Linked DNA regions of Homo sapiens: region 1 is linked to region 2. A link means that fine-mapping ties the variant in region 2 to the plasma level of a protein whose gene starts in the linked region. Region 2 holds a variant in brackets. A gene starts in the other region. All regions are shown on their forward strands.

Region 1 (8,338 bases), not on the chromosome of region 2:
AAGTGTTCTCTAAACATTTTGATTTTTTTCCACACATTGTCTAAATATGGCTGATAAAAGTAAGAGGAAGAGGGAGATTCCAAACATAGGATACTTCAGGAAGGAGTCAAGGAGAAACTGCCACAAGGTAGCCCTGAGGCTAGCAGGTGGTTTGGGAGCAGCAAATACTATCCCAATGACAGAGGAGACAGCTGCGAAAGTTGCAAGGACATAGAAAGTAAACGACGTGATTTACAGTTTTCGCCTTTACAGCTCCTGCAGGAAAAGTGAACGCTCTGTTAAATACGCTCCCTGCCTTGTGCCTCAGGCATACTCTGTTCTTCCTTCAAGCTCCAGAGTGAATGTTACCCCCTCTAGGAAGCCTGTCTTGACTTCCCCAGTAGAACTAGTTTCTCCCCTTGGTGCGTTCCTAGCATCCACTCCTTGAGGGCAAGAACCATGCCTTCTTCTCTGAAGCCACATAGGTTGGATGCAAACCCTGGCTGTAAGACCTCAGGCAGGCAATGTAACCTTTCTGTTCCTCAGCCTCCTTATCTGTACAATGGGAATAATAGTGGCACCTACAGGCCTCGGTTGGTCATGGGCTTACATGAGAGAAGGAACACAGAGTGTTTAGCACAGGGCTGGGCACACACTGAGAAATATCAGTTTCATATATAGTGCCGGGCTTTGGCAGTGGTTGGAGGAGATGTTCATTCAGTGTTTGTGGAAGGAAGAAAAGATAAAGGGAGGAAAGGGAAGAGAGAGAGAAACACAGCAACTAGCTGTAGAGACCATCATGTACCAGGCAGCTCCCACCTGGTATTTTGGAGCCATGGCTGCCGTCCAGTTTTGCTAAGTACACATCCTGTCCCCTTAGGCCAAGACTTGGTACCTAGATTTCTAATTCCCCAGATGCCTAATCACGTGTGCTGTGTCTCTCTCAGCTCTGCAGCCAACAATGTCTCACCTGTCTGATCTCTCCCTGTTCTCAAATCAATAATCCTAAGTCACTGCCCTGGATCACACCTGTGTCAGGAGGTGGGCAGGCCAGGGAGCCCCCTGCCTCTCCCTCCTCACTCAGGGAAAATCAGCCTTGTTTCTCCCAACCTGGTTCACCTGGCGATGCATCCATTCAAGTGTAACCAGAAAAAGGCCACTGGCAGAGTCACATAAGAATCTGCACCGTGGGAGACAAAGTGAGGACCACAGGGTACAGTCACAGCACTGACAGCTGTCCTTGGACATTGTCTCTGGACGTCCTGTGCACCAGGGCTGTGCTAAGCACCTTTGCATACTTCCCCTGTGATAAGTCCATATTGCAACCTCAGGAGATGGAGAATCCTGCTACCTTCCTTTTACATGGGAGGAGCCTGAGGCTCCCAAGAGCTAGACCTGGGCTGTCTGATAAGGTACCCACATGCAACTCTTGAGCGTCTTAACTGTGGCTACTCCAAATTGGGGTATGCCATAGTGTGAAACAAAGAATGTAAACTGTGCCTTTCATAATTTTTATGTTAATCACATATTGAAATTATAATATTTTGGATTGACAGGTTAAGCAAAATATTGTTAAAATTAATATCATCTGTTTCTTTTTACTTTTCGAATGCAGATACCAGAAATTTTAAAATTAAATATGTAACTTGCATTGTATTTCTATTAGACACACTGGATTCAACAAAACCTAGATTGATCTATCTCCACAGCCTTGTTCTTCACTCCTGAGCAGAAATTTAACTTCCATGCTGATACTAAAGTTGTTCCCATATGTGATGGGAACCAAACACAAGTGTACCTGGGTTGGGCTTCTAGGGAAAGAGGAACTCTATTCTCTTTCTACAGGCAGGTGCAACTGTGCATGTATACATATGCTGGGAGTGCCATTGTTTTATGAATAAGGAAACAAAATGCTGTGTGGCACACCCAGTGTCACAGGCCCTCTTACCGTGCAGTGGAAGAGGTGGAATTTAAACCCAAGACTGCCTGACACCAAAGGCTGGACTCTTCCCCTGCTTCCTCTCCCAGGGCTCCCATACTCCACAGCCTAGGAGAAGGCCAGCTCAGGTTGTTTGAGACTGGGTTGAAACCCAGGTGCATAAGTGGTGGTGCACGATTTCCATGTTATTGGATCTTTTTATCTGTTTGAGTCCTGCCTTTTATTTTAGTTGCACTCATGGCCTTCACCTATATAAGTCTAATATATTCCTCAGGTCCCAGACCATTCTCCTCCTCTTTGTTCTGCATCCTCAGGCCCCAGATCCTTCTCAACCTCTTTCTGTACGTTGCTCAAGCTCAATGAATGTTTGTCTCCTCACTGGCTGAAGCTAAACCTTTGTTGTGCCCCAGAATCTGAATGTCTGGTTTCTGTACCCATTTTGCTAGTATCGTTCCTATTTGAAAACAATGCCTACAGCCCACATCCACAGAGCTGGGATCTTTAGATTTGGGTTTTTCAATCAATCCTCAAAAACTATTTCTCTCCAGAAATTAATTAGGGCTGTGCCTCAGTTAGTTTTATGTAGTTATAACAGAATATCAGAGACCAGGGAATTTATAATGAACAGAAATTACTTTGGCTCATGGTTTGGGGGGCTGGGAAGTCTAAGATCGAGGGGCTATACCTGCTGAGAGCCTTCATGCTACATCATAACATGGTGGAAGGCATCACACAGGTGAAAGGAAGAGAGAAGGGGACCAAACACATCCTTTTATCAGGAACTCACTTTCAAGATAATGGCATATTCCATTCATGAGGGTGGAGCCCTCATCAGGATAGGATAATCCTCTCAGCATTACACAATAGCCACCACTGTGTACCAGCAAGCACACAGAAGGATTCAGCAGTTCCTAAACTTATTTGAATGCAGAATCCTTGGACAGGGACAGGAAGGAAGAGAAGGGCTAGGAGTAGGGAGAGAGTTAGGGGGTGGTTACTCACCTCATGGACTAGGGCTTTATAGAATGCCCTTCATGATAACCTCTTCTAGAGGCTTCTTTCCCATTTTGTCTCTTTTCTCTCATGACAAACTACTGCTGATATGTGTTTTTTGTTGAAATACAGTTTTTAAAAGATAATTGTCTTTTGTATGGTCCCAATAAGTAGAACCTTTCTGAATCACAAATAGAAGCTAAAAAAAAAAAAAAAAAAAGAAGGCAAGAGTCCCAACCAATGTGTTGCCACCCACCTGCCCTTCAGTATCTTTCTTTTAGCAAGAGTATGGGGCTTTAGTCTCTTAATGAGCTTGCTTCCATACATATGCATAAAAGGAAGAATAGGCTTGAAATACAATGTGAGAACTTTTTATATCTCTTTGACTTTTTCCCCTTAAGTAAAGTCATTGTTTAAAAATAACTTAAATGATGATAAGTAGAACATTTTCCACCCAGATGGCCAAAGTGCTTAAGGAATCTCAACTGTGCTTCTGGCAGATGACTGTGGGGTTCAACTACCTCCCTGATCTAACAAGGGCTTTGCACACAGAGTGTCAGCCAGGAAGTCTGAATTCACCAAGCACCACTGGGACATAAGATAACTATTAGAGTGGCCAAGGAGACCTCCACAGCAAAGGTGTTAGGGGAGAGGGGGAGAATGGGACAGTCCTCCATATTCCTATTCAGGAGGGGACCTGCAAATCAGAATCTAATCATAAGAGCCTTGAACAAATGTTATGATTTCTCAGGAAACAGTTGGGAAACTTAAATTCATTTGTATGTACAGGTGGATATGAGGTTGCTCAAGGGTCTAAGGTTAGAATCATTGGGAAATGCTATCCAAAGTACTGACTTAGGAAAATCCAAGTTCAGAATTCAAGGTGAACTTGGTTAGCCCTTCCAGTTGTAACAAAACCGCTCAAGTCTGCCTTAAAGAGCCTTACAAGCCAGCCAGTCCCTGCAGCTCCACAAACTGACCCATCCTGGGCCTTGTTCTCCACAGAATGGGTCTGCTCCTTCCCCTGGCACTCTGCATCCTAGTCCTGTGCTGCGGAGCAATGTCTCCACCCCAGCTGGCCCTCAACCCCTCGGCTCTGCTCTCCCGGGGCTGCAATGACTCAGATGTGCTGGCAGTTGCAGGCTTTGCCCTGCGGGATATTAACAAAGACAGAAAGGATGGCTATGTGCTGAGACTCAACCGAGTGAACGACGCCCAGGAATACAGACGGGCAAGTAGGGACAGTTCCCACTCTGGGGCAGGGATGTGGGCAAGCTGGAGAGACTGGCCAGGGTGAGGGAACCCAGAGACACCCTGGCAGGTGTTTTCTGTATTGGAAGCCCTGCCGAGAACTCTCTGTTCTCCTCTGCCAGGGTCAGCAACAACGCACTTATTGTTAGTAAAAACAAGTGTTAACAGTGATCCTACTCTGACACTTGTGTCAGATTTAATGGTTTACGGGGAATCTTCACAAATATTCTTTGGCTTTGCCATAAAGCAGGGGTTTTTTTGTGTGGTCTTTCTAGGTTTCTACTTCCTGTGAAATGTATTGCATTTCTCTACCCCTTCCCACAGGGTGGCCTGGGATCTCTGTTCTATCTTACACTGGATGTGCTAGAGACTGACTGCCATGTGCTCAGAAAGAAGGCATGGCAAGACTGTGGAATGAGGATATTTTTTGAATCAGTGAGTGCTTGTTTTTATAAACCATTAAGGGCCCTAGGGAAAGCAAGTAGGTACACTCTTTCTACAGGGTCAAGGGTGCTCAATATCTGTCATCTTTTAAATGGCCCACTTTATAATCTCCTGGCAGGTGCCCATAAGCTTATTCTAATGCTCTAGACAGAACAAAGTTTAATTCATGAGAGGGGTTTCTGAGAAGTCCCATTGGGGTCATGCAGAACAGAATGGAAAAGTTGCCCCAAGTTGTGTTTTTACCTCCAAGACCTTCCGTTAGGCTCTGAACCAGTGTTTCAATTGTGAGAAAAAGACCTGAGGTGTGAATATTCTGGACGTGGGGTTAATGTAGACTGCAGAAGTGATGGAGGTAGAGCTTTGTCTATTTGTTTTATTTTGCTTTGTTTCAATAAACTCCGATGCCAGGTTTGAGGGGAGGAAAATGGATGACTTGCAGTATGAAAGCTCTCAAGGGCGCCGTGTAAGGATTTCCTGAAACCACAGAGCATAATAAAGGGCCTCAGAATTAATCTTCTAAAGATGATCATAGAAGAGACTTGAAAATAGATAATCCATTTCATTTCATTCTTAATTATCCTGGGATGATTTTCAGTAATTGATATAAAACTTTACAGTGTGAGTACAGAATAGTGATGTAAGTGTTTAGAAGAAAACTATTTGATCAAGATATTTTCCTAATCATGTAGCCAATTGGTCAAACTGTACCCAACTTGATTTTGAAAAGTGAATATCCTGTTGTGAATTATATTTGTTATGGTGACACTAGCTACTAAAACACAGACACAAAAACTGTATACTCACTCTAACATGATAGAAGTTCATTTCTCACGCATGTAAAGTTGAAAGTAGAAGTTCCTGATTAGATGGGTGCTTTGCTCCAGGGGTGATTTGAGACCCAAGTTTATTCCACACTCTGGCTCTAGACTCTGCAGCCTCAGCTCACGACTTCCATGGTTACCTGCTCATCTGCATCAAGCTGTGCACAGAGAAAGAGCATAGAGGACAGTGAGAACGTGGGAGACCCTTATGAGCCAGATCTGGAAATGGTTACACCTCACTTCTGCTCACCTTCCTGTGGTTAGAACTCAATTATACACAGTCACACGTGTTGGGGAGGCTTGGAAACATATTCTAGCTGTGTCCTAGGGAAAGGTTAAACAGTTTGATCATCAACTGCAGTTCCTCCCAGCCAAAACCACAGAATTTGATCTTAAGTTTCTAACTACTTTAAAAGAAAATGTCTGACTTTAATTTTGGAGGTATTTTAAAAGCTCATAGTTGCATTCGCTATGTCATAAAATGCATTTGTTGGTTTCAGGTTTATGGTCAATGCAAAGCAATATTTTATATGAACAACCCAAGTAGAGTTCTCTATTTAGCTGCTTATAACTGTACTCTTCGCCCAGGTAAGAAATCACTACGATTTTGTTAGTTTTAATAAAGGATGGAAAAGAGTACTTAACCAGGTCTTTGCCAAGAATGTATAGGGTATCTCTCATTCTTATTTTCTGTTTATTCTTAATGCCAGTTTCTTAATATTTCCAGTACTTACCTCCTTACTGAAATTCATACTATACTGCTCCTCTTCCCACAATTAATCTTACTAAACTACCTCTACATTTATATGCTGCATCAGATCTTACATTTTCAGTCTGACATAAATGGTATAATTTCTATGACTGTTCCCTCAGGCTTCCTTTCTTGCTATCTCTGCCATTATTTCCCAGACTACACCAACTCTTCACTCCATTCTACTGGATGCCACCCTGTTTTCTGAACATGCACTGCAATTTCCAGTCTCTGTGTCTTGCTTGTGCCTCTCCCTCTGCTGAGCATGCCCTCCCCTGATGACCTCTGACCTTGGGACACACCTATTCTTTAAGGACCAACACCACTTCTTCCACAGTGTTCTCTATTCTAGAAAGGAATGGTGCTTTTGTAATCTGCATTCCTATAAAATTTTGTCTAAACTACTCAGGGAACACATAATGCACTGCCTTGATTTGAGGGTCGCATATCTTACATCATGTAGAATAGTTTCTCCTTTCCTCCTCCTGCTGCACCCTTCCTCAGTTCCCACCAAGTAGAAGGTGTCAATAATGTTGTTAAGTAAATAATTGGACTAGAAATGAGGCTGAAACTTAATGACACTTGAAATATGCACATGCATTCATTTGGGACCTTCCTTTTTTCAAGGGAAGGTCTTTGGAAAGAGAGCATCCACAGTGCAGGAAAACAGAATTTGGTCCCCTGTCGAACAACTACGTGCGTGTCGCTCCCCTGGTGGATCCTGTGCAAGTGTAGATTCTGATTCCACAGGTCTTGGTCAGGACCTGAGATCCTGCATCTCTAATAAGCTCCAGGAGATAAGAATGCTGCTGGTTGCTTTGAATAACAAGGCAAGCGAGCAAACATTTTGTTAGGCACAGTTTAAGGTTCCTGGTTGTGAAGGCAAGATTCACAGAACAGCAAGTAGTAAACAGTCTCAGGACTTAAATGGAAGTCATAAGTATCAGAGCTATGGGAGGTCAGGAAGTGACAGGTGGTGATGATTCAGGAGTGACAAGCTGTAGCTGGAAGTCCCCCATTATCTCCACCAGTCCCCAAGTGCATGCAGATAAACACAAAATTTCTAAAAACAATGTGTTTGCTCTGCAAAAGCAGCTTCAAGATAAATTCTGTACCTTGACTTTCACACTAGGCTTATTGACCTCAGCTCCTCCCAAACAGAAATCTGACTGTACTTAATGTGATCATTCTACTCAGTCACACAGTGACTTGACCCATTTTGTTTTCTGGCTCACTTGCATTTTTCTTCTTAAAAAAATATTTAGTCTTATTTTTTATTGATAAATAATAGTTATACCTATTTATGGCATATATAGTGATATTTCCATATATATACTGTATTGTGATCGGATTAGGTTATTAGTATATCCATCATCTCAAACCTTTATCACTTCCTTGTGTCGGGAACATTCAATACCCTTCTAGCTATTTGAAATTTTATCTTATTGTTAACTGTAGTCATCCTACAGTGGTCCAGAACACTAGAATTTATCCCCCTATCTAGCTGTAATTTTGTATCCTTTGACAGATCTCACTTGCATTTCTAACCAAACGGGGTGCGCTTCTGCCTTCTACTATGCCATTCACTTATCCATTCATTCTACAAGCATTTACTAAGCACTGCCTATGTATCAGATATGATGTTCGGTGTTAGGAACTGAAAGGTAAATAAGATATTGCGGTAATGAAATCCCAATCTCTGAAGACAGTCTACTTTACAGGGTCAATAATGAGAAAAGATAGTGAACTAGTTGGAGGAAAAGGTCCTATTTTAATATACTATATTATGTGTCTTTGAACAAAATTCTCAGAGTAAATGTGTGTGAGGTGAAAACTTTGCTTTGTTCTGGTCTCTTTTTTAATTGTGAAAGTAATACATGGTCATTACAGAAAACACTGCTGACAGCTAACTTCTATTCCAGGGGTATATTCCAGAGGTAACTTCCTCACCCCATCCTTGCCTCTTTACAGTCATATGATTTATTGAAAATTAATAGCATTTAAAAACTTATGTTATTGGCATCAACAGTTTCAAAAAAAAAGATTTACATGACGTGCCCTGACTGCCCAAGCTCCATACCCACTGACTCTTCCAATCACCAAGTGCTGGAGGCTGCCACCGAGTCTCTTGCGAAATACAACAATGAGAACACATCCAAG
Region 2 (8,338 bases):
TATATAGAGGGAAATTAATGCTTGCAGCAGCAGGATATGAGTAATTTTTATAAGTAACCCAACTTTTCCATGAGGCCATTAAAAAAAGAAACTCATCAATGTGATACTACCAAGGAACCAATGACTAAGTTTCCAGAAAAGTAGTTCTAGTGCTATGATATTCTGGACTCCCAACACTAGGAAGTTCTAGAACAGTGGTTCTAAACTGGGGGATATTTTGTCCTCCAGGGGACATTTGGCATTATCTGGAGACATTTTTGGTTTTCACAACTTGGGGAGGGGTGCTACTGCTGACTAGAGAGTAGAGGCCAGAGATGCCACTAAACATGCTAAATGCACAGGACTGACCCCACAACAAATAATTACCTGGCCCAAAATATCAAAATTACTCAGTTAGAGGAATCAATGCCTAAATATGAGCAATACATAGAGCAGACTGCCTCATAAAGTGAAAGTGATTCACCCTGCCATGAAGATAACAAAGTTCTTACTGTAACGGCAGACATTAGGTCACTTCACCCAGTACTCTCCAAGGTAGATGTTGTATTTCTACTTTACAGGTAGGAAAATGGAGGCTAAGAAAAGTTAATTTGTCCGAGGGCCCTCTGATGATAGTGAAACTGGGATGGAACCTCTGCCTGCTTGCTTCTGAGGTCTGGGCTCCTAACTACTGCTCTACTGCCTCGAGCCAAGAGATTTACGCCCTATTAAGCAATTTGTTGTGCGATAAATTGGAAGACACAGCAGATAAGCAAACAACTCAAGCAACCAGGTCAGTTCCTGGAGTTTCTGAATTGTTGGGACCAAGGGGCCGTGCAGAGGTAACCACAGCTGGCGTAGTGTGGTTGAGGTAGCCCTATTAGCCTTTTAGTTGCTGTTACTAATTTATTTCTCAGTGGTCAATGAACCAATTGGCCATCAATCAGCTTTGTGTATAGGTCATGTTCCCATGGCTCTGACCCAGGTTGCTGCTCAGAGTTGGCATCGTGGCTAAAATATTACTAGAGGTCAAAGATATGTGTGTGTTTGTGGTTGATTTAGTCGAGTGATCTAGAGGAATCTGAACCAGCATTTCTGGGCAATAATACTTGAGTTAAGGAGAGTGTAGCAAAACTCTAGGTTAGCATTGGCAGTCCCTAGGATTCAGACTGTAGGCCTAAATGACCCTCAGTCCAGAGCTGTACCTAATGAGGACAATACATTTTAATGTGAGTCCATTCTTAACAGCAAAATTTCCTCTTTGCTTGTCACCAGGGAAAAATGGGTTTGCATAGAAAAGGTGGAGATTGAGGGGGAAGCAGAATGGACAAGGAGTAAAGAGGGAATCCAACTACTTAGATTTGAGCTTTCGTTCTTCTTTGGTAGTTGTAGAGGTGAGCTTACCAAAGCATAGATGACAGGCAATGTGGTATACAAGTTACTACACTCCAAAAGTCTGGGGTTCTTACTTATTTTGTGCATGACATCCAAAGTAGCCTAATAAAATCTTTTCACAGAAAAAAAAGCTTTACTTTCCTTTGCCAAATTTTTAACTTTTTATTCTGAAATAATTTCAGAATTATTGAAAAATTTAGAGACTAGGACAACCCAGATTCCTCAAATATTAACACTTTACCACATCTGCCTTCTCATTCCTCTCTATATACATAGGTGCATGTGTGGTTTTAATGTTTATTTATATACATATCATTATTATTTTCTTAACTGTTTGAGAGTAAGTTGAAGACATGATGCTCCTTACTCTTTAAATACTTCAGTGTGTATTTCCTAAAAAGCAGGCCATGTTCTACATCATCACAGTATAATTATCAAAATTGGGAAATTAATATTAATGCAATACTATTTATCAAATTTTAAGATCTTATTCAAATTTCACTTGCTGGCCTAATAATGTTCTTTCTGAAAAAAGAAAAAAAAATTTTGATCCAGGATCACATATTGCATTTGGTTGTTGTATCTCGTTGGTCTCCTTTGATCTGAAATGGTCCTCAGTATTTCTTTTACTTCATGACTTTGATGTTTTTGAAGAGTACAGCCATATATTTAGAAGCACTGGAAGATGTTTCCCCATGCATAATTAGCTTTGGATGCTCCACAGAAGAGCTGTTGTGTCCTTCCCTGTGTGCCATCTCAGGGGGCATGCGATGTTGGTTTGTTCCATAACTAGTGATGTGAATCCTTATCACTTGGTTAAGGTGGTATCCGTCAGATTTCTCCACTATAAAATTACCATTATTCTCTCTTTAATTTGAAAGTATATGACAGGGAGATTCTTTGAGATTCTATAATGACTGTCTGTCATCGGAATTTGACCCACTAGTTTTAGCATCCATTGATCATTCCTGCCTGAAACCATTGTTGCTATGTCAGTTGCCAAATGGTGATATTCTAATTCCATCATTCGTCTGACACTTATTAGATGGCATATTAATTCTAAGGAAAAATTTCCATTTATCCTTATTTATTGATTGATTTACTTCAGAATGGATTCATGAATTCATATCTGATTTAATGAGTTATTACCCATTATCACTATTGGCTTTGATGCTCAAATTGTCTCTTACTTCGCCAGTGGGAGCCCCTTCCAGCTGACATCTATGTACTAGTGATGTATCTCCAGCATTCGTTGAGCACTTACTTACTTGTAGCATAAGATGCTCCAGGCTTATTTTGTACATTCGCCTCCAAGCTCAGCCCTGATGTTAGCTTTTCCAAAGAACATGAACACAATGTTTAGAAATTGGTTTCTGAGCCCTTGGTATGTTCATTGTTGTTGGAGTGTCATTGTTTCTAGCTCATCGGGTAGATCTAGAAAGTTACCTATCCATTTTTGTATTTACTGACTCATATTAAAAACCAGGAGTTCATACTGATTCTTCCAACTATAATCCCACTCCACAGAGTTCATTCCAGCCTCTCCTTTTTCATATTTGCTACTCCTCCTTCTGACAGTGTGAAGCCTGGCTTCCATCATCCACAGCTTAGTTACAGTTGACCCTTAAACAACACAGGGATTGGGGCGCCAGTGCCCCATTCAGTCGAAAATTCATGTATAACTTTTGACTCCCTCAAAACTTAACTCACAGCCTACTGTTGACCAGAAGCCTTACCAAAAACATAGTCAATTAACACATATTTTGTATATGTATTATATACTGTACTCTTATAAACTAGAGAAAAGAAAATATTATTAAGAAAAGCATAAGGAAGATAAAATATACTTACTGTTTTTTAAGTGGAAGTGGATCATCATAATGGTCTTCACCCTTACCATCTTCATGTTGAGTAGGCTGAGGAGGAAAAAAGAAGAGAGGTTGGTCTTATTGTTTCAGGGGTGGCAGAGGCTGAAGAAAATAAGACATAAGTGGATCCAGGCAGTTTGGATCCAATATGGGATCCAACAGCCCACGTTGTTCAGATGTCAGCTGTGCTTATTTTCTCAATCAAATAATTTGAAATAATAGGGTTGTCTGTTTTCTAGCTCTGGTGGAGGCTTGGATTTTATGTGATTCTATTTGTTCTTCTCTTTGAATTGT[G/A]CATAGTTTTTGGAGTACGTCCTAGGAAATTTGGATTGACATGACTGTCACTACTACAGCTACCTCAGAAGTGAGAATAACTTTTTTAACACTTGAAGTGAAATACATAGTATTACAAAAGAAAACTACTGTATTGAAATACATCCAAATATTTATAAGTTTATTTTATTAACATGGTGGCAGGAACAATAACCACCATAATTTTGAAGTAGTAATCAGCATTAATCATATTTTGAGATAATTCCAACAAATGCAATGTAACATGAAAATATTTATTATTTCTATTGGTAACAAAATCACAGGCAATACAAATACTACTGCGGTTTGTTGTTTCTTCCGTAATTGAAGATTGTGCTAAACTTCAATTACAGTTCAGGAAAAAAAAAAAGATGGGATCTTTTTCCCATCCAAATGTAGAAACCCCTGAATTCTATCCACAGACTCTCTCAAAGTTCTAATGGCACCCTTTTGTCTGAGAAGCTTTCATAGATGCCCAAATCATCCATCCAACTGAATTCAATCCCTTAGGGGCTGGTAACCCAGTTTCATGCACAGGAACATGCATGAAACATACCCTCCTTGTGGCTTCCCTTCCCCCATTCCCTCATCTACTTTCCCCTCTGGGACCTTGTGTCAGTTATTATACTATAACAGAGGAGGTTATGAGGGGAGATGACTCTGTAGCCACAACTATTTCAGATGTCAGATGTTGCTTTTGGCCAGTGGACTTTTATCCCTGCCTCTCAGCAATCATGGACAAGATGTGAAGTGTCGACCTTATCAACTCAGCTTGTCAGCTTGGACACTTCTCAGCCCAGCCCAGAGTGGAGTGCTCCAGTCCCCAGAGCCCCTCATCTGTCTCCTATAGTGGAAGGACACAGCACTCTAGTCCCAGTGACCTTGGCAAATCACTTTGTTGCTTTGAGCCAGTTTCTAAGGCAAATAATATGCCCTCTCTAACTCAAAACGCTATTGAGAGGACAAAATGAGACCTGTGTGTGAAAGCACAGCATAGAGTGCCTTACTAATGTATGACATTATTTTACTGTGACTCCCTCGTGCATGCCCCTGGTAAAAATGACAACACAAAAACTTCCAACTCTCTGCTCTAGAGAACATAAAACCCCACAAATATTTGTCTTCTTCAAATAATTCCCCTGGGAGTTTAGACTGCAATGAAAGCTGCAGAATCCATTCAGAAAATATATTAAACATTTCGCCTTTCGGTGATTATTTACTGAAGCCAGATTTGAGCAAAACGCTATATTAGTTGAATTTGTAGATACAAAATTTCCTTAAAAGGTTTAAACATGTAATTTTGCAAGAGTTAGTTATACCACTTCCCCTCCCATAATTATACATTTATAATGTATTTGAGAACGGGAAATCTTGCTACATGGACATTGATTTGCAACAAATTATAACTCTTACACAGAAAAGAGTTGGAAAAACTATACCAAATTATTAAGCCATGGTAATCTAAAAAGTTGACTACTTCAGAAATAGCTGTAGCTATACCACAAGAATCAAGTAGGTTCTCCAAACATATTTTTATATTCCTCTGACTTAATTTTTATCAACTGACTTTTTTTTTTTTTTTTTTTTTTTTTTGTGACAGAGTCTTGCACTGTCGCCAGGGCTGGAGTGCAATGGCATGATCTCGGCTCACTACAACCTCCACCTTCTGGGTTCACGATTCTCCTGCCTGATTCTCCTGCCTGATTCTCCAGCCCTAGCCTCCTGAGTAGCTGGGATTACAGGCACCCTCCACCACACCCAGCTAATTTTTTGTATTTTTAGTAGAGATGGGGTTTCACTATGTTGGCCAGACTGGTCTCAAACTCCAGACCTTGTGATCTGCCCCCCTCTGCCTCCCAAAGTGCTGGGATTACAGGAGTGAGCCACCAGGCCCGGCTGAACTGACAATTCTTTTATCATTTTTTTTTTCTTTAGCTATAGATCTTCTGGGGGAAGAAAGATAAAAGCAGAGCCCGAAATTTTCTTGAGAAGTGAAGAAGACATTACATTGATTTTTTTTAATCTGAAATAGTCTGTTTCTCAAACAGCAGTAAAAATAGTGTGTGTGTGTCTGTGTGTGTGGTGTTTAAAATTCTGTGTGTATGTTTATATTTCTTGATCTAGAAAGAAAACTTTACAAATACAGAAGAAAATGGGGAAAATGCACTAAAATATTGAATCAAGTGTTATAATCATTACTATCTTCTTTTTTTCTATGTTTTTTCTTGAGGATAAATTACTTTTACAAGCAGAAAAAAATAAATGATTTTTGAAAAGGATTCGAAGGAAAAATTAGGAAATAATTGTAAGAAAATAAAGTCCAGGCTGGGCGTGGTGGCTCACGCCTGTAATCCCCGCACTTTGGGAGGCCGAGGCAGGTGGATCACCTGAGGCCAGGAGTTCAAGACAAGCCTGGCCAACATGGAGAAACCCCACCTCTACTAAAAATACAAAAATTAGCCGGGTGCCTGTAATGGTGGCAGGTGCTTGTAATCCCAGCTACTCAGGAAGCTGAGGCATGAAAATCTCTTGAACCCAGGAGGTGGAGGTTGCAATGAGCCGAGATTGCACCACTGCACTCCAGCCTGGGCGACAACAGCGAAATTCCATCTGAAAGAAAGAAAGAAAGAAAGAAAGAGAGAGAGAGAGGGAGGGAGGGAGGGAGGGAGGGGGAGAGAGAGAGAGAGAGAGAGAGAGAGAGAGAGAGAGAGAGAGAGAGAGAGAGAGAGAGAGAGAGAAAGAAAGAAAGAAAGAAAGAAAGAAAGAAAGAAAGAAAGAAAGAAAGAAAGAAAGAAAGAAAGAAAATAAAGTCCAAAGTCTATAAACTCGCTTGGCCTCTCAGTTCCTTTTTGAACTCAGTGTCCAGGAACAGCCATGATTCCAAAAGCACCCACAAGTTCTGAACTTCAACTCAGGGCCTATTGATTGTCCTCTGTGAGGCATTTTAAAGCCCCTCTGGAGTCTCAGGGTGGGTCAAGATTAAGGGCAAAGATATTGCGTGGACACAGGAGGAAGCTTTTTGGGTCATGGAGGAAGAAAATAAGGTCTTTCCCACATGTGGTTCTCTCTTTAGCCCCTCTCCCTTCCACAGGCTCAGAGAGCCAACACAGACCTGCTCCTCTGTGGGGAGGGAGCTGATGATCTCATTCTCTTGGGCTGCCCCATCACTGAGTGTGGAGGGCTGGGCCCATGGTACTCAGACCTGAGGCAGCTGGCCATACAGCCTTGGCACCCAGGCATAAACCTCAGGTTCTTGTTCACTTCCTCTTTCTGGATGGCTTGCTTTTCTCTGGCACCAGTACCCCATGGTAAGAGTAATATATGCTGAGGGGAAACGCAGATGCAGGCTTCTGAAGAAAAAGGAAAGAAAGCCCTCTACCTGCCTGATTTTAGGCCCTAGGCTACCTCTAGCCCTGACAAAATTAATTTTCCAAGTAGTTCTGCTGCACATATGGTCAAAGCTTCCGTTTTACAGCATACATTTGCTTGGCTTTATCCTTTGTCCATGTGATTTTTTTCTCACAGGAGACTGGTGTTCACAGAAGACAGAATTTGGGGATGTGGGAGTCTGGTTTGGGACATGGTGCATTGGCCAGCATTTCCCTCTCAGTCACTTCCCATTTATCTTGCCCTTTCTTGGTGAACTCACTTGTTGCCTCCCACTTTAATACTCATCTGCATTGGGGTGTAATGATCTCAGAGTTGGGTTGAAGATTGACATTAACCCATTTAAAATAAGAAAATGGAAGCCAAGTTGGGAATATCTTAGTGGCAACAAAAAATGCTCTTCTTCTCCTGACAGTTTGAAGATAATTGGGAGTCTGACAGAACAATTAAAATTGAATTATTGTTTCTAATAGATTTTAAGCCCATTCTGCAGTGGAATTTCATGAACTAGCAAGAGGTAAGATTTTACTGTGAGGGTCTGTCTTCCTGATAGACGAGTTCACTCCTGAGATTAATACCATCACTCCACATAGCTCCAGCTGGCCGTGGCAACTCAATGGCTTGTGTCAATTTTGCCATGGCTCCCCTCTCCCTCTCTTCCATTTAATTTCTCTGAATACTCCTTGGTTAGTTTTTGCATTACTTTAGAGGAACGATTTATCATTTAGATGGCCATCTTCCCAACAAACAACCAAATAAGAGTTATTGTTTCTTTAACTTTCTATTTATCCACACTAATGCATTAAAATATCTCAAATTCATCAGTCCTGGGTTATAATGCCTTGGTAGTTCTAATTTGAATTTTCTTTTTCACTTTGAACACTCAGGACACCATCTTCTTGTATTATACAAGAAAGGAGTGTACCTATCACACACAGGGGGAAAAATGCTCTTTTGGGTGCTAGGCCTCCTAATCCTCTGTGGTTTTCTGTGGACTCGTAAAGGAAAACTAAAGATTGAAGACATCACTGATAAGTACATTTTTATCACTGGATGTGACTCGGGCTTTGGAAACTTGGCAGCCAGAACTTTTGATAAAAAGGGATTTCATGTAATCGCTGCCTGTCTGACTGAATCAGGATCAACAGCTTTAAAGGCAGAAACCTCAGAGAGACTTCGTACTGTGCTTCTGGATGTGACCGACCCAGAGAATGTCAAGAGGACTGCCCAGTGGGTGAAGAACCAAGTTGGGGAGAAAGGTGAGAGACATGGAAGTGGGTAGGATGGGACAGGGATAGGGGATAGGGAGGTAACCAAAGCTAAATAAAACATGCTCAAGTTTTAAATGGCCTTTCGAGAAAATGTTTCCTAAATACCGGCTGTGTACTTCTCTAATC

Alleles and levels. Positions count from the first base shown, and alleles are read on the strand shown. Strength reflects both the effect of a copy and how common the allele is.
For the plasma level of the protein whose gene starts at base 3,856 in region 1, G is the high allele of the variant in region 2 and A is the other (weak association).

What was found. A credible set is the group of variants that fine-mapping cannot tell apart. PIP is the posterior inclusion probability: the model's chance that the variant is causal. Protein levels are from antibody-based Olink assays in UK Biobank. Linkage for the fine-mapping came from a reference panel and not from the study's own genotypes, which makes the PIPs less certain.
Region 1: it holds the start of FETUB, and the variant in region 2 is the best candidate, but not a certain one, in a credible set for the plasma level of the FETUB protein (UK Biobank, PIP 0.79).

Annotation. Positions count from the first base shown.
Region 1 is chr3:186,636,544-186,644,881 of GRCh38, forward strand. FETUB (fetuin B) reads left to right here and starts at 3,856. Exons shown (of 7, transcript NM_014375.3): 1 at 3,856-4,142; 2 at 4,487-4,597; 3 at 5,928-6,015; 4 at 8,208-8,338. The coding sequence starts at 3,918. It overlaps HRG-AS1 (HRG and FETUB antisense RNA 1), which reads right to left. Exons shown (of 3, transcript NR_187317.1): 2 at 5,411-5,585; 3 at 4,966-5,080.
Region 2 is chr2:169,073,695-169,082,032 of GRCh38, forward strand. It overlaps DHRS9 (dehydrogenase/reductase 9), which reads left to right. Exons shown (of 5, transcript NM_001376924.1): 2 at 7,829-8,200. The coding sequence starts at 7,888. Among named protein-coding and RNA genes, the nearest start is that of DHRS9, 8.3 kb to the left of the region's middle. The variant G/A (reference allele first, on the strand shown) is at 3,537.